4 linked regions of the Homo sapiens genome follow. The protein of the gene in region 1 interacts with the protein of each later gene in a pairwise test. Each region holds a gene or a part of one and is shown on either strand. Other genes may lie near its edges.

Region 1 (5,500 bases):
CCCTCCCCACTTTTTTGACTCTGGCCGCTGGGTTTTCTTACATCTTAGCTGTTCGGTTTTATTCTCCTTGATGCCTTGGCTCTACCTAAGGCGTTGGAATCGCCGCTAAAATGTGTGGCCCTCCTTGTTCACTCCTATGTGCTGAATGGAGAGTTGGGCCTGCAGTGGAACAGGAAGGGCGTCTGTTCGCGTAGGGGCAGGAACTGGAGTCAGGGCTGCTTTGGAGGAAACCGGACCAGCCTAGAGACCCGGAACACCATGTGCAGCTGTTGGGCCAGGCAACCTGGACCTGCGTGGTCACAGATGAGACTGGGGCTTGCTGACTGTTGCTGAATTAAGCTAACAGATTTTTGGTTTGCTTTTGGCATTCTGTATCTGGTAACTTACATGACTAAGGTGCTGGGAGAAAAATCTGCCACCAGTTTATTTTACTTTATTTTTATTTTTTTGAGACGGAGTTTCGCTTTTGTTGCCCAGGTTGGAGTGCAATGGTGCAATCTCAGCTCACTGCACCCTCTGCCTCCCAAGTACAAGCGATTCTCCTGTCTTGGCCTCCCAAGTAGCTTGGATTACAGGCATGCGCCACCATGCCCAGCTAATTTTGTATTTTTAGTAGAGACGGAGTTTCACCATGTTGGTCAGGCTGGTCTCAAACTCCTGACCTCAGGTGATCTGCTTGCCCTGGCCTCCCAACGTGCTGGGATTACAGGCATGAGCCACCGCGCTCGGCCACCAGTTTATTTTTAAGAACTGCAGAAATAACTCCTTTGGGTCACAGGATGAGAAATTGGAGCTCCGAGGTGCCCTGTAACTGTGTGCTATTGGTTCTTGGTGCGATCGCACACAGGGAAGGGAGTGCGGGCACATTGGAGAAGGGATTCCAAAGGTAGGAAGCTCCTTTTGTCCTTTTAGGGATCCCTTTGTCCCAGCCTGGATGATGAGAGACTTGACTTCATATAGTGGCAGAAAACCTGAGGGGCTGTGGTTTTCTCCTGAGATGGTTGCCATGGTGTCCTGTGGACCTGTGGGGCAGCCCCTTTGTGGGAGAGTGGGGCGCGTTCCCCCCATAGCCTGTGCTCCTGCCTTAGACTTCTCCCCTCTACCTGGCCAGTTCCTGCCTGGCCCTGGAGGGCCCGAATGGCTGTGGGGTGCCAGAGCACTGTATCACCACTCAGCTATGTGTGCTGGGTCATTCCCCTTGTTTTGTGGGGCAACACTGACAGCAGACACATTGGCAAGTGGAGGCCCCAGACCTGGCAGCCCCAGGGCTAATGTGGAGAACAGGTGTCCACCGCTCGAGTCAGCTGAGTGGCCCGAGTGATCATCCAGGCCACAGCTGCTGCTACATCCAAAAGAGGATTCGCAGCCTCCAGGCCAGGGGCCCACTTACCCTTTCTTCTCCAGGTGGGGGTGGGGATGGCTTGCCTTGGCTTGGCCTGCGATGTCATTGTAGGGCCAGGATCACAGCCAAGAGGGTTCCTGTCACACAGTTTCTGCTTGGGCTGATGAGCCCTGGCTCTGGCTTAGGGGTCCGCTGTGCTCCCCTGCTGTGAAGCAGTAGAGGTCTGAGTGCCCACCCAGGGGTTTCCCTACCGGGGCTGCTGTGATGGAGCAGATTCAGCTCCAGGCCCTGTGTGGAGAGCAGCATGGCCTCAGCAGGGAGCAGGGAGTAGAGCAGGGCGGGAGGACGCGTCATCCAGAGAGGCCTGAAGAGTCGGAGGGGTGGTGGTGCTGGGTAATGCTGCCAGGTCATGGCCCTGCTTTCTCCAGGCCCTCTCTCAGGCCACCTTAGACAGGAGTAGATGGGAGGACACAAGCTCAGGGCACCAACAGACCTCTGGAATCCCCAGGAGGACTCCCTTGGGGTCTTTCCGGGTGCTTGGGCAGGGTTGGGTTGAGGCTGAGGCCAGGCCTACAGGCTAACGGCTCGGTGGAGCAGCGTCCCAGGGCCCCGAGTAAGCGTTGATGGGCTGAGCAAACAGGGAGGATTTGACAAGGTGGCGTTGGGCCTGCTGGAGGAGGAGCAGGCAGAAGAGGGGCTGCTTCTGCAGATCACCTGAGGTCAGGAGTTCGAGACTAGCCTGGCCAACATGGTGAAACCCTGTCTCTACAAAAATTCAAAAAAAAAAAAAATTAACGGGGCATGATGGCGGGTGCCTGTAAGTCCGGCTACTCGGGAGGCTGAGGTGGAAGAATCGCTTGAACCTGGGAGGCGGAGGTTGCAGTGAGCCGAGATCACGCCACTGCACTCCAGCCTGGGCAACAGAGTGAGACTCTATCTCAAAAAAAAAAAGAAAAAGAAGAGGGGCTGCTTCTTAACCTTGTCCTGCACCTGGCATCCAGGACTGGGCTAGGAACGGGTGGTCCTCCACCAGAAATGGAGCAAACAGGGAGGAGGAAACGGAGATGATGCTCTCTATGGCAGGAGGGTGATATTTTAACACTGACTGCTTACCTATGACAGCCAGTGGGCTGATGAGCTTATGCTTTGACATGCACTTGTGGGCCCAGCTACTCAGGAGGCTGAGGAGACCAGCCTGGGCACACAGCGAGACCCCCCATCTCAAAAAAAGATTGCATGTTCTGGGTTGACTTTCCTTTCAGATAGGGGCTGGTTCTCACCTCATCTGTGCCACCCACCCTCAACCCGGAGACAGCTGAGCACCTGTGACTTGTCAGCTTTGAATTTTTCCTGGCTTCTCTTTAGAACACATGGTCAGCAGCAGTGATGGGGCTGGGGGCAGACACAGCTCACCTTGACCGGAATGACCCCAGGCAGTACTCAGCTCTCTCTATCCTGCCGAGTTTCTTGACCTTGGCTTTGGGGACTCCTGGTAGCAGGTGGGCTCAAGGCACCCCCTGCTGTTTCCTCCATGGGTACTGGCTTTAGGACTGGGCTGCTGTACTGATGAGAGAATGAGAAAGGTCACTTTTGACTCGACCAGCTGTCTCAACTGGCCAGACCTTTGGGCTAAGCAAGGGTCTGTGTGTACACTGCAGCTGGCCTGCTCTAGCTGCTGCATGGAGGCCACCTGCACACCCCCGGGCCTTGACAAGCCAGCCTTGCAGGGAAAGGTTAGGTGGCCTCTGGCCCTCCCCTAACTGCCTTTCCTTCCCCAGAGTTCCAGTCACCTCGAGGTCTGGCACTCAAAAAGGGATGTGCAGCGGCATGTTTCAAGGTGGGGGCCTGTGTGCCGCCCCTTCCACCCTCCTGGTTAGGAACCCTGGGAGGTCAGCTAATTGGCAGTTTCACACGGAAGTGTCGCCTCAGGCTGGTGCGATGTCCAGTTGGCTTCAGCCAGCTCCTCCGCTGGGCTTAGGCCTGGGGTGGACCCAGCACACAGGTGTCCAGGGGGTGAGTGTGAGGGCTGTGTGTGGTGTACCCCATCCTTCTTGGTGGGCACGGTCTCCGCAGGCCCAGGAACGTGCAGGGCACCCCCACCCAAGGACCTGTCCTGTCTTCAGTGTTTTTTTTTGTGGCATAATTAGTCGTTTTGCCTTTTTTTTTTTTTTTTTTTTTGAGACGGAGTCTTGCTCTGTCGCCCAGGCTGGAGTGCAGTGGCACGATCTCCGCCTCCTGGGTTCATGATATTATCCTGCCTCAGCCTCCCGAGTAGCTGGGACTGCAGGCGCCCACCACCACACCCGGCTAATTTTTTGTATTTTTTAGTAGAGACGGGGTTTCACCATGTTAGCCAGGGTGGTCTTGATCTCCTGACCTCGTGATCTGCCCGCCTCGGCCTCCCAAAGTGTTGGGATTACAGGCGTGAACCACCGCGCCCAGGCTGTTTTGCCTTTTTATGCTCTGCCACACTAAATTGGCATCAAGACCCTTGATGTTGTTAGGGGAGGGGCCGTGCGTGGTGGCTCACGCCTGTAATCCCAGCACTTTGGGAGGCTGAGATGGGCAGATCACCTGAAGTCAGGAGTTCGAGACCAGCCTGGCCAACATGGTGAAACCTTATCTCTACTAAAAATACAAAAAATTAACTGGGAGTGGTGGTGCATGCCTGTAATTCCAGCTACTTGGGAGGCTGAGGCAGAAGAATCGCTTGAACCCAGGAGGCAGAGGTTGCAGTGAGCCAAGATTGCACCACTACACTCCAGCCTGGGTGACAGAGTGAGAAGCCATCTCAAAAACATTTAAAAAAGGGTCGAGGCTTGAGGACACACCTCTGCTGGCTTCCCCTGGACTCTGGGCCTGGGCCACAGACCCCAGGCACCTTCCACACCACTGGCTCAGAAACTTTTAGGCATTGCTTCTTTAAATCTGAGGACTGTGTGAGGCAGCTTTCTGCATCAAGAAAGCATCAAGTTTCTAACTCCGCGCTGGTGTAGCTGTCAGGAGGACTTATGGAGGGGTGAGGGAAGCCCTTTCTAAATACGTGACTTTCAGGAGTGGAGGAGAACTTGGTTAACACATACTGAGGTTTTTTGTTTTTGATGAGGTTTTTTTTTTTAAATTTTTTATTTTTTTGAGACCTAGTTTCGCTCTTGTTGCCCAGGCTGGAGTGCGATGGTGCGATCTCGGCTCACCGCAACCTCCGCTTCCCTGATTCAAGTGATTCTTCTGTCTTGGACTCTCAAGTAGCTCGGATCACAGGCATACGCAACCTCGCCCGGCTAATTTTTTTTGTATTCAGTAGAGATGGGGTTTTACCATGTTAGTCAGGCTGGTTGCGAACTCCTGACTTCAGGTGATCAACCCGCCTTGGCCTCCCAGAGTGCTGGGATTTCAGGTGTGCACCACCAAGCCTGGCCTGATGAGTTTATTTTTTAGTAATTTCAGATTTATAACAAATTAAGTAAGAGCTCCCAAATCCCCCCTCACCCCCAGGGGCCATTCACCTATTAACATCTGTCACGGGGCTGGCATGTTGTTCGGGTTAGATGAGGCAACCTTCATGCCGTGTCATCACCTAAAGCTCCTGTTTCCAGCAGGGTTCATCGAGTTGGCCTGGCCTCTTTATACTTTCTGGGGACTTTTTCCCTTGCATGGAAAGTTCAGTTTAGGTTTTTTTGTTGTTGTTATTTGTTTGTTTGTTTGTTTTTTTAATGGAGTTTGATTCTTGTTGCCCAGGTTGGAGTGCAATGGTGCGGTCTTGGCTCACTGCAACCTCCGCCTCCCGGGTTCAAGCAATTCTCCTGCCTCAGCCTCCTGAGTAGCTGGGATTACAGGCATGAGCCGCCACGCCCAGATAATTTTTTTGTATTAGAGATGGGGTTTCACCATGCTGGCCAGGCTGGTCTCGAACTCCTGACCTCAAGTGATCCACCTGCCTCGGCCTCCCAAAGTGCTAGAATTACAGGCGTGAGCCACCACGCCCGGCCAAGTTTAGTTTTTGAACAAAAAGGGAGAAAGGAAGAAACCAGAGAAGAATTGAGGTGCGCTCCCTTGGACTCCCCCTTCCCTACAGGTCCCTTCCTCCCCAGCAGGGCAGCCTCTGCCTGTCCCCCGCCTCTTGTGACCGGCGCTGTCTGCCCTCTGTCCCCGCCCTGG
Region 2 (3,849 bases), on another chromosome or scaffold:
GCATGGGGTTCTAAGCAAGGGAGACAGTCTCTTAGGCCTGGAGCAAGGGGCCAGGGGCCTGGGCAGGCCACAGAGCCCCACAGTGCCCTCGCTACCCTATTAATGGGCCAGGAATCTGGAAGCCAGCCACCACATGTCCTCATGCCCAGGGTCTTCCGGCAGGTGGAGCTGAAGAGCCAAGAGGCTCCGAGTCTGCAGCAGCAGCCAGACCAGTAGCTGGAGCCCCAGTCCCACAAGGAGCTTGGATGTGCGGACAAGCAGGGTGGTGAGTAGAGCCCTCAGGCGGGGTGGGCAGGCAGGAGCAGGGGAGGCTCGCACTGTGCCCAGATTCCCACCCCCTCCCTCTCTCTGAAGATCTTAGTGAGCTGAGCCTCACTGATAGCATGGAGGCTGCACCGGGAGAGGACAGGGAGGGTTCTCCCCCATGACAACCCCACTGCACAGCAGATCCAGCAGCTGCTTCCTCTAATGCAGGACTCCCCAGGAGCACCCAGGCTTGAGTGGAGAAGCTGTTGGTACAGGAGAGGCGGCAGGAGGAGCAGGAGAGGCTGCATGCCATTCTTTTCGGGCTGCCGAGAACAGGGAGCTAAACATCACCATCATCTAAGAGCGGGTCAAGAAATTGAAAAAAAAAAACAAAACATTTAAGGGGTTAATATCCTACACAATTCATTTACTTCATTTGAATGTTAGAGCCACTTATGTTTGTGTTTCTAATTTATAGTTTAAATTTATTTGTGTTTCTAATTTATAGTTTAAATTTATTTGTTTCTAATTTATAGTTTAAATTTATTTGTGTTTCTAATTTATAGTTTAAATTTATTTTTGTTTCTAATTTATAATTTAAATTTATTTGTAAAAAGTTAAATGAGAGTGGGTCTTTCTCTCATGTTCACTCTGGCATCTTTTAGCATTTCTTTAATTTGATAATTATAGGACGTTAGCATGCATATCGAGTTTGCCCTTATGTGGTGGGAGTTCAAACACACAAAGACCCACTGTATGCACACAACTGTTCTTGCTGGTTTGGGATAGGCTGCCATGCTTTTTTAATGTTAGTACAGCCTGTATATTCATTACGGAATTCAGATAAAATTTCCTTATGTTCTGCTGTTATGTTTGATCGAATCCTAATCACAGTGAGCTCTTCATTAGCTCAATATGTGGTTTGCCCTCTGGAAACAGCCTTTCCCCCTTTTTCTGTGTATTGGGGATGGGAGTAATAACATTTTGGGGAGGTTTTTAAATCTCCCAGAAGAGGAAAGTGGCCTGCTTTGGCAGGTGTGTGCAGGATAGAATATGTTTCATTTGTTCCGGTGCCAAGAATGAGCGCTGTACTACGGTAGTTCCCTTAGGATTTGTATGTGCTCTAGGCTCATGAAGATACTGCCTCATGAGCTGTGGCAGTTGTACTCTTTTTTGATGACCTGAAAAGGGATTATTTCTGAGGAATGAAAGGCTCCCATCATGACTGTGGATGTGGAAAACCTTTTCTAGCTGAGAGCATTTATATCTACAATACATTTTAAAGTCAGAGTTCATGTTCCCTGTTTTAATCACATGACTACATGTCCCAGTACACAAAAGGGCACTGGTTGGCGTTCTCCTTAATGTATTTAGTAAAGATCAGAAGAAATCCTTTAAGAGTTTAAATGCCCCTGGAACAGGCATATACAGGCTCTAGTCAAGAATGAATTCGAGTGAAGGAAAGCTGTGTGACACCTGGCATTCCTCTGTGTTCATGGAGCTTATTTGAGGCTAGAAGATGGATTTTACCATCTAGACCTCTCTGGCTAATAGCTAGTCTTCAACCATCTGACATAGGAATTTACTTCTTTTCCTTGAATGGAGAACACTTTAAAAATAATAACAAACATTATTATAAACTAATATATGTGAGAGTACTTAGTTGAAACAAAAAGGAGTTTTAGTAGACAGTATTATACTACATTTGAAAATCAAGGAGCAGTTTATGCAACGTAAAACGTTTACAAACTGCAGCACAATCTACTGTTCGTGAATGTCAAAGTGTCATGAGGAAAGTGTCTATACAATCACAGAGTTATATTTCCTCACAAAGTTCTTTACAAAGAGTGAAATATGTTTTTATACCTCTCAGTTTCAGTTAGAGGCATATTTTGTGTAATATTTATGGCTTAAAATGGACTAAAGGTCCTGTTCTTGCCTTGTCTGAACTTGCCGCTTTTGCATTCTTTGAGTTCAGTTTAAAGACAGTTACTTTAAGCCCATTTTAAACCCTCAGGCTAGAAATCGTACCACTGTTAATTAGCCACATTATTTGGTCTAACAGTTTATCATTCTGAAACTGAGCTTACCTAATACATTGATAAATTATTTCAAAGGTATTTTTATAGTTCAAATCGCTTCACTTTTACCCTGACACGTATAAATGACTAGGAATGACCTTCAGATAGCATTTAGCAACTGTAACCAATCTGACAATAATGTGTTCATCAGGTACCTGTGGATTAAATCACATACTGGCATATTTAAGCTGAATGTCAGTCTGAAAAATAAATGTACTATATTAACTCAAATACCACTCTCTGTGTAGGTATTTTGTCATATGTTTAAGAAAAAGCTAAAGAGAATGGAAATCCTATGACAATAACTATGACAATAACTATGACAAGTCTTTCTTCAAAGTGCATGCAGTCTTTTGCAGTACCTCATTCAGCCAAGTATTTGTTCTCTACCTCATTCAGTATAAGGCAGCCTTTAATTTGCTTAGAAGGCAACATTAGAAGGTTAGAGTTCAGCAGGAACATAGAATTTTAAAATGTGACTTCAACTGAATAAATTTGAATTTCTGTAGGGAGTAAAGAATCAAAACACCTATTTAAAGACTGCAAAATATGATAATTATTTTTAAAGTAATTGATTAAACCTGGTAGGTTTTCCCAAAATGAAAAACAATCAGTTCTAAAACCAAAGCTGATTTTTAGAAAATGTGAAAATGTAAATCAACCCTATCCATAATAGATTCTCTAAAACTTTATCTTACAGTCACTTTCAAATAACTATTCAAAAATGTAACTGCTATATTAACGTCTTAAAATAATTTAAAACATTTTAAAATATGAATACTGTAGTTTAAAACAAAGAATCTAGGGGAAGGAAAAGTAGACAAAGAAATGCCAATTCCAGTCCAAAGCTGTATTTGCCAAGTTTTCTTAGAATGACTTTTACCGATTTATGAATTCTTATACACAGAATGCATAATGGAAATACTGATTTTTGTCTAAAGTGGCATTATTGACTGCTGCTGTGATGCTACTATAATGTAATACATTATTAAATTGTTTCAAGGTGCTGTTTTGCCTAAAAATTTTGTGTGTCTTGAAAACTATAGTACTGGGTATTGAGACTCTGCAAATTCTCGGCATGCTTGGCATGAGGTAATCGGTTTTTATTCTTACAAAATTGTAACTATGTAAGTGTGTTTATTAAAAGAACACAAACTAAAAAAGTTAACAGGAATTAAAGTTGTGGGATGAAAAAGTTACAGGATAAAAAAATACTGTGGAAAAGTGGCAAAAAAAAGTTGTGGAAAAAAAGTAAAAAAAAAGTTTTATGAAAAGTTATTTTAAAAAGTTATGAAAAATTAGTTACAGGATTTAAAAAAAGTCATGGGATAAAAATAAAAATAAATAAAAGCAGGCCCCTGTCAGCATAAGCCTGGAGAAGTGGGTCTGGAGTCTTCACCCCCACCATGTCCCTACAGCCCCTCCCCAGTCAGCCCTTTACCATTAGGGTAGCAAGACAAGACCCTTGTCTAATGGAGGGAGACAAACAGACCCTTTACCACCTTGACCAAGGCTGAGTCCT
Region 3 (3,930 bases), on another chromosome or scaffold:
GTGTAAAATAATTAGTAATAGTGTAAATCATGGTATTTCCTCAATCACTGCCTGTCAGAGGGTTCTCCCAGTAGGAGGAAACAGTGCTGACTCCACCTTTCTTCATCTCAGAAGGGATGGACTAGAAAAAGCCCTAGCCTTCCTAGAAGAAAAGACTAGAAGAGGAAGAAGACAAAGGGAAGAATCACACTAATGGATAGTTATTGATCGTTTATCATGCTAAGCCATTATGGGATGAACACAAGATTCAGACTAATTAGACAAAATATACTAAAAAATATGAAACAAAATGTAATCATTTATATCGTTAAAGGAAATGAGTGACATAAAAATAGATTACCGGTTGAAGTTCTGAGTGAATGATGCAGATAACTTGTGCTCTAGAGTCTGGAGGAGAAAGAGAACACTCTGATTGTAGCCCCCAAGAAGGGCTTTGCCATGGTGGTGAGTTCTTGCTATTGTATGGTTTTCTGAGGAGGAGGAGGAGGCAAGGAATTCGCTTTATAATTAGAATATTCTGAGGACACCCAAGAAGAAATTATTAAGAATTAGTTACTTCTGCCATTGGAGTAACTCATGGATTTTGAGCAGTGCTTCAGATATTAATACTACAGTTTCAGGGTCCAAATTAAGAAACTACATGAGATTCTCTGAGGCCTCATATCAAAGGTTATTTGATATGTAGCAACCTCTAAGTTTGGGACAACCATCTTCCCAGATTAGTTTTTTCCCTCAGGTTAAATTTGGCTTTAAAGAGTAAGATAGGTTTGAGGGATGAATGGATAAGCAAAATGTGGTATATACATATATTGCAATATTATTCAGCCATTAAAAGGAAAGAAATTCTGACCCTTGCAACATGGGTGAACATTATGAGGACATTATGCTAAGTGAAATAAGTCAGTCACAAGAAGATTCCACTTATATGATTCCACTTGTATGAGATACTTAGTGAAAATCATAGAGACAAAGTAGAGTGGTGATGGCTAGAGGGAGGAGGGAAATGGGAAGTTATTGTTTAATGGGTATAAAGTTTCAGTGTTACAAGATGAAAAGAATTATGGAGATGGATGGTGATGTTGGTTGCACAACATTATGAACATATTAACACTGAACTTACATTTAAAAATTGTTAAGATGGTGAATTTTATGGGTATTTTACTAGTTTTAAAAATTGGAAGAAAAGAAGGCTGGGAAAGACATGGAGCCAGCTGCCTCCAGCCTTGTGTCTTTTCCCTCCTGCCTTTCCAAGAAAGGTGAACTACAGATGTTGTAGCTTTCCCCAACCCAGTACACTCTTGAATACTTTTGCTTTGCTATTCTCCAGTGCTTCAGAGGCCAGACGTACACGGTAGGCTGGCTCATGGTAGTACTTCTACATCTCCACAACTGGGCAATGTAAAGAACCTAGGAGACCCTCTTATATTTTTCAGAGCTTACTTGATGGACTGTGCTACAACCATCCTGTCACTGCTTAGGAGACCAGAACATCTTTTCTTCTTAGCTTTGTAATACTCTTTTATTCTGAAGCAAAAATGTATTAGATTGGGTATGCTTTTTACCATAGATTACTTTATAAATGTGCCTTGTTCCTGGAGCATTGGTTAATAAAGGTATCATTATGCTGTTACTTGCTGACTTTTTTTTTTTTCAAATTCTAGTGGCATTGATTGTAAAACATTCATTTGACATGGAATTTATTGCTATGAATTACTAAAATAGTAACTGCCTTCCTACCAATTGAAAGGTTAAAGATACCAATATGTGAAGTCTGAGCCTTAAGTGGAGAGTGTCAAGTGAAGTACTAAAATAAGTTAGAAAAAGGAGGAACTTCTTGTACTTCTTTCTGTTCTCTAGAGCTGTGCTGTCTAGTATGGTAGCCTCTAGCTGCATGTGGTTATTGATCACTTGAAAGGTGGCTAGTCCTAATTCAGATGTGTTATAAGTGTAAAATATACACTGGATTTAGAAGACTTTGTATGGGAAAAATTAAAATAATTGATTTTATATTGAAATGATAATATTTTGGATATATTGGGTTAAATAAAATATACTAGTACAGTTAATATCACATGTTTCTTTTCACTTTCCATACTATGGCCCTAGACAACTTAAAATTACTGTGGCTCACATTACATTTCTTTTGGACAGCGTTGTTCTAAAGGACCAAGCGCTGTGCCATACACATATGGATTGAGTATCCCTTATCCACAGTGCTTGGGCCTAGAAGTATTTTGATTAAGAATTTTTTCAGATTTTGGAGTATTTGCAGAATATATGCCATTTGAGCATCACTGATCCAAAAATCCGAAATTCAGAATGCTCCAATGAGCATTTCTTTTGAGTGTCCTGTTGTTGCTCAGAGTTTCAGATTTTGGAGCATTTCAGATTTTCGGACTAGGAATTCTAAATATTTGTCGATTGATCAGTCTAGAGCTCTAAACTTTCAGTAGCCTTGCCCATTGTGCACAGTTTAAAATCAATTAGGGCACCACAACTAGGCCAAGAAAACTAAGTGGAGTATTATAATGTAGAATACATTTAGGGAACCTTTCACATTAAAAACTTGCCTGGAGATACATGTTATAACATGGATAAATCTTAAAAACATTATGCTAAGTGAGAGACGTCATTCATAAAAGACTACTTATTGTATAATTCCCTTTATGCAAAATGCCTAGAATAGGCAAATCCATAGAAACAGAAAATAGTTTAGAGATTAACCCTAGGAGCTGCAGGGAAGGGAAAATGGGGAAGGAAGGACTCTTAGTGGGTCTGAGATTTCTTTTTGGAGTAATGAATATGTTCTGAAATTGGATAGTGCTGATGTTTGTACATGTGTGAAAATATTAAAACTACTGAATTGTATACTTAGGGTAAATTTTATGGTATATGAATTACATCTCAATAAAGCTGTTATATAACATATTCAAAACCAAAATTCAAGGGCAAGTTTATTCTTTGTGTATCAACAATTCAAAATAATGAAATATTATGGAACAATAATAAATAACATAAAATTACTTAGAGCACTCAGATTCAGAATAATCAATATATAATGTTTTCTGTAAAGCCTGTGTTTACCTGGAGAAACCTAATTTTAACTGACTTGTTCTAAATTGGTAGTAGTATTTTTATTTAAAAAAAATGATGGTTACATATATATTTTTTTAACCTGTGTAATTATGTTTTATTAATTTTATAAAACATATAATATATAAAACTTATAATTTTACTAATTATGTTCTATTATGTTACTATAGAAATTATTTAAATCAATAATACCATATAGTTTCTTTTGTTATAAAGGATTTGTATAAGTCCTTGAAAACACTATCTGCAGAACTGGTACCTTGGCTTAATTTGAAGAAGCAGGATGAAAATGAAGGTATCAAAGTTGAAGATTTGTTGTTTATAGTAGATACTATGCTGGAAGAAGTTGAAAATAAGGAAAAGGTAATACCTACATGAACGGTCACCTTCTAATGTTTCTTATCTCAAAAACTGATAAATTGTGGATATTGATATTTGTTCTACTAGAGTTCTATTTGTCTTTTAAAAGTTTTTATTTGGGATTATTTTAAGATAATGAACTCTTTCTTTTTTACCTCTTTTTTGGACAGGACAGCAATATGCCACACTTTCAAACTTTGCAAGCTATTGTTTCTCACTTCCAAAAGTTATTTGATGTGCCTTCTTTAAATGGAGTCTATCCCCGAATGAATGAAGTTTATACTAGGCTTGGAGAAATGAACAATGCTGTGAGAAACCTCCAAGAACTCTTAGAATTAGGTGATGACCTAATTTGTCATTTTGGGCCCCCATTTAAGAATTTTTAATAAATTAACAAAAAGTAGATTAAAAAATGTTTAAGTGAAAAATTGAGGATAACTGAAGCATAAAATGTTTGATGTATGTAATTTTGGAAAT
Region 4 (3,930 bases), on another chromosome or scaffold:
AGGTTCCATGGTCACAGTAAACTTGCAAAGATGCAAAGGCAGCTTGGCTCATCTTCAGTTCCACCAGCCTCTGCAGCACTTGCTCTAAGGAGGGAAGCAGATTTGGGTTTTCAGAAGCCAGGGCTGAAGGGTCCAGTGAGCGCGCAGTCCTTTCCCTGGAGAGAGGTGTAGTCACTTCTCCCAGACCCAGCTTCCGTGGCCAGGCCCTGGCTCCCTGGTGTTTTTCTCTTGTCCAGCTTAGCTGGTCAGCCAGCTTTTTCCACTGTCTGCCCATCTGGCTTGTCAGATATTAGAAGATCTCTAGAACCAGAGGCTTGGGCGAAGAGTAAGGTCAGAGCCTGGAGAGAGGCTGGGTGGGGCTCTGATCAAGCAGGTAGGTCCAGTTGGGGGCAAGGGAGAGGCTCCACATGACCCCAAGTTCTGAATCCTAGGATTGTCCTCAGGTACTATTCCCAGGAAAGAGGCCCTACAACTTCCAAGTTGCCAAGAGCCACAGGGAAGATGTCTTACCTCTGTTTTCTTGGGTGGTTTCTTGGCTGGGTAGATGTTTTTGGAGGTAAGAGGTCGGGGTGGGGGTGTTGGCCATGGTTTATCCTCTTTTTACCTCCAGAGAGTTGGAGAGAGTCTTCTAGTTGGGCAGCTTTTTTTTTTTCCCCCTGAAAAGGCCTGAATCAGAAACACAGCCAGTAGGCCAAGTGCAATGGCTCACACCTGTAATCTCAACATTTTGGGAGACCAAGGTGGATCACTTGAGCCCAGGACTTTGAGACCAGCCTGGGCAAGATGGCAAGACCATGTTTCTATAGAAATTAGCTGAGCATGGTAGTGTGCACCTATAATCTCAGCTACTAGGGAGGCTGAGGTGGGAGCATTGCTTGAGCCCAGGAGGTGGAAGCTGCAGTGAACTATGATTGTGCCACTGCAGGGGAGAAGGGAAGGGAGGAAAGGAGGAGACAGGCAGATAGCTACATTGTGCATTGCCCAGACAACTACTTCCTCATCACCATCCTCTGCCCAGTAGGGGCCCAGTGAGGGTCACTCTGCAGCACAGACTGGCCTTCTGGAAGAACAGTGCCTTTCTCCTCCCTGACTTTGGCACACCTTCCTCCTGCCTGCTGTGGCTGCCACAGGTCAGAGCCTGCTGCTGTCTTTTGCTGAGCTCCAGGGAGAGCGAGGTCCTCGTGTTCATGAAGGAGGCCGTGCAGCCCCTGCTTTGAGCTTTGGCCATCTGAAATGCTGCCTAGCAGCCCAAGGCCTGGGCAACCAATCCACACCCCTGAGTGGCTCCTAGCATGTGTGACTGTCACTCTGACTGCAGCAACACCTGTCCTACCTGTTCCACACCCTTGTGTTCATAGTACTGAGGCACCTCTCCCGCATGGCCCCCTAACCCCCTGCTCTGTTCTGTGACAGACACCCAAGGACAATGCTGCTACTCTACAACCATCTGATGACACCGTGTTACCTGGCGGTGTCCCTTCCCCTGGTGCCAGTCTCACTAGCATGGCGGCATCTCAGGTTCGTGCCTCCTCCCCCTCTGCCCACTGCCCTCCTGTACCTATTATGCATTATCTTCTCCTTTCACAGGCAGCTTGTTCCCTAGGGTCAAGGGCCCTTCCTGGGGACCGGGCCGGGGGAAGGCTCAGACTGGGCTTTTTTCCTTGAGGCCTGGGGAGATTGAAGATTGTTAGAATGAGTTTGGGAGCTTGACTCACCCCATCCTGGGTGATTCTTACCAGAAATTGAATGACCATCTCACACGTTTCTTCCCAAACAGAATCATGATGCTGACAATGTCCCTAATCTCATGGATGAAACCAAGTGAGTGTCTCCTGTTGGGGCAGCAGTCTCTAGGCTGAGAGAGTCAGGGAGGCCACTGCCCATGACCTTCTTTCCCATTGAGCCACCTGCACCCCTGACCCCTGTGTCTCCATCCCTAGGACTTTCTCATCAACCGAGAGCCTGCGACAACTCTCCCAACAGCTCAATGGTCTTGTTTGTGAGGTACCTCAGGAACTGAGGCCGAGAGCGGGGTGGGGGGAAGGGAACTATGATAGAAACTGAAGCAGGGATTCACAAGAGAGAGGGAAGATCCTGGGACCAGCCAATGTGCTGGGCAATGTTAAGGAAGTCGCCTTTTCCCTGAGCCTTCTCCCTTGAAGTTGTGCACATGAAGGAGTTGGACCCCATGACTGGTTGCATCATTGTATCCTGCTGCAGAAGCACTGGATGAGAGCTGCTCGGGAGGAAAGGATGGTGGGGAAATAAGAACCATGAGAGAAGTTGGCACAAAGGGGTTACGGGACAGAGGGTCCAAGTTAGAAAAGAAAATGTTGCCAATTGCTGGGGAAGAAACGAAGTTAGAGGGCTTAGACACTGAGGGGACAGAACATCTCCATGTGCACTCTCGTCTCTTATAGTCTGCGACATGTGTCAATGGGGAGGGCCCTGCATCGTCTGCTAACCTGAAGGATCTGGAGGTAAGAGGCCCTGGGCCGTGGCCCAGTGACCCTGCAGGCCAGCCCTCCAACCTCCTCCCACAGCGGGGGCTGGGTGCCCCTCTGCCAGCTGAGACAGCCCACACACCCCCCAACCCTAATGATTGCTCTCTCTACCTCTCCCCCCAATCCTCCTCCAACTCCTCCTCTCTGCATGCGCCTCAGAGCCGGTACCAACAGCTAGCGGTAGCCCTGGACTCCAGCTATGTAACAAACAAACAACTCAATATCACGATAGAGAAATTGGTAAGAGTCCAGTGGGGTCCCCTGATTCCATGCTGCTAATCCTGGGCTCCAGTTTCCCCTTGGGACCCTGAAGAAAGGGGCAGGGGGCCCCTGGTGCCAAGGGCGAATGGGGAGCTGGGGGGCCCAGGCCTCAGCTGGAGGGACCCCAGAGCACGGAGCATGCAGCATGGCTCTTCTGTTGCTGCCCTCTTTGCCTACTCTCTCTTCTCTAGACACCCCTGCTCGAGTCCTTGCCACACACGCCCTGGGGTTGTTGCCTCTTGGGGAAGCGCTAGCCTGACTGGTTGTCAGGAGCCCTGTATTTCTGCCCTGACTCAGTCCTTAATTTGCTCTTTGATTTGGGACAAGCCACCTCTCCTCCTTGGGCTTGCATTTCCTGAGGAGGTAGAGTTAGAGAGTATCAAAGGTCTCTTAGCTCTGAGAGTCCAAGATTTAAAGGCCCATTAGAATGTAAACCTCAGGGCCAAGGGCTCCTGTCTGTCTTTTTCTGTCTGGTATCCCTGCTATTAAGAACCGTACCTGGCCTGTGTGTGCTCAGCAAATGTTTGTTGAATGATTACACCTTTCTAAATCACAAACTGGCAGAGGGTGGGCTTTTCTCACACTCCATCTCTAGAGGTTTATGTTACTGTCCTTTCAAGAGAATCGAGATTCAGACTTTCAGTTCTGTGGCTGTGGGCAAAAACCAACAAAGACACAAATCCCCTTTCCTTGAGAGCCTGAGGAGAGTTTACCAGTTCGTGTTCCCATTGGGTCTGAGAACTTTGCCTTTAAAATCCATTCCTGGCCCCTGCCTACCCGTTCCTGGTCTGGGGAATAGAGTTGAGGGGGCCACCCTCAGTCACCTTCCTTTGACTCTTCCCCACAGAAACAACAGAACCAAGAAATTACGGATCAGTTGGAAGAAGTAACGTGATTTCTTTGTTTGCTCACAACATGACTGCTGGGTTTGGGGGGCATTCAAATGTAGAGGCCTCAGTCTCGTCTCACCCACTCCCAGCCTGGGGAAGAAGGCTCACCCCCCCAGATTCCACCCCATCCCCACAGGGTCCCTGATAACCTGGTCCCATGGGTGGGCCTGTCCTGGGACATTGGTGGCATTCTGGGGGCATGTCCCTTGCTGTGCCGTCTCTGCCTCCCCCTCGTAAGAGCTCTGTCTTCCTCTTCCTATAGGAAAAGAAAGAAT

What was found. Proteins that work in one complex are often made in the same cells at the same time.
Region 2: the proteins of STK25 (region 1) and GOLGA6L9 interact in binary tests that used the Homo sapiens proteins (3 or more experiments, as listed by UniProt).
Region 3: the proteins of STK25 (region 1) and CEP70 interact in binary tests that used the Homo sapiens proteins (3 or more experiments, as listed by UniProt).
Region 4: the proteins of STK25 (region 1) and GOLGA2 interact in binary tests that used the Homo sapiens proteins (3 or more experiments, as listed by UniProt).

What each region holds. Positions count from the first base shown.
Region 1 is NC_000002.12:241,501,717-241,507,216, reverse strand, and holds part of STK25 (serine/threonine-protein kinase 25), read left to right. Parts: intron 1-5,500. UniProt on the Homo sapiens protein: Oxidant stress-activated serine/threonine kinase that may play a role in the response to environmental stress.
Region 2 is NC_000015.10:82,435,805-82,439,653, forward strand, and holds the end of GOLGA6L9 (golgin subfamily A member 6-like protein 9), read left to right. Parts: intron 1-162; coding exon 163-265; intron 266-474; coding exon 475-607; 3' UTR 608-3,349; downstream 3,350-3,849.
Region 3 is NC_000003.12:138,500,261-138,504,190, reverse strand, and holds part of CEP70 (centrosomal protein of 70 kDa), read left to right. Parts: intron 1-313; coding exon of another isoform or gene 314-355; exon of another isoform or gene 356-2,941; intron 2,942-3,309; coding exon 3,310-3,456; intron 3,457-3,623; coding exon 3,624-3,792; intron 3,793-3,930.
Region 4 is NC_000009.12:128,266,008-128,269,937, reverse strand, and holds part of GOLGA2 (golgin subfamily A member 2), read left to right. Parts: intron 1-1,413; coding exon 1,414-1,518; intron 1,519-1,777; coding exon 1,778-1,821; intron 1,822-1,940; coding exon 1,941-2,004; intron 2,005-2,420; coding exon 2,421-2,480; intron 2,481-2,663; coding exon 2,664-2,744; intron 2,745-3,612; coding exon 3,613-3,651; intron 3,652-3,917; coding exon 3,918-3,930. UniProt on the Homo sapiens protein: Peripheral membrane component of the cis-Golgi stack that acts as a membrane skeleton that maintains the structure of the Golgi apparatus, and as a vesicle thether that facilitates vesicle fusion to the Golgi membrane.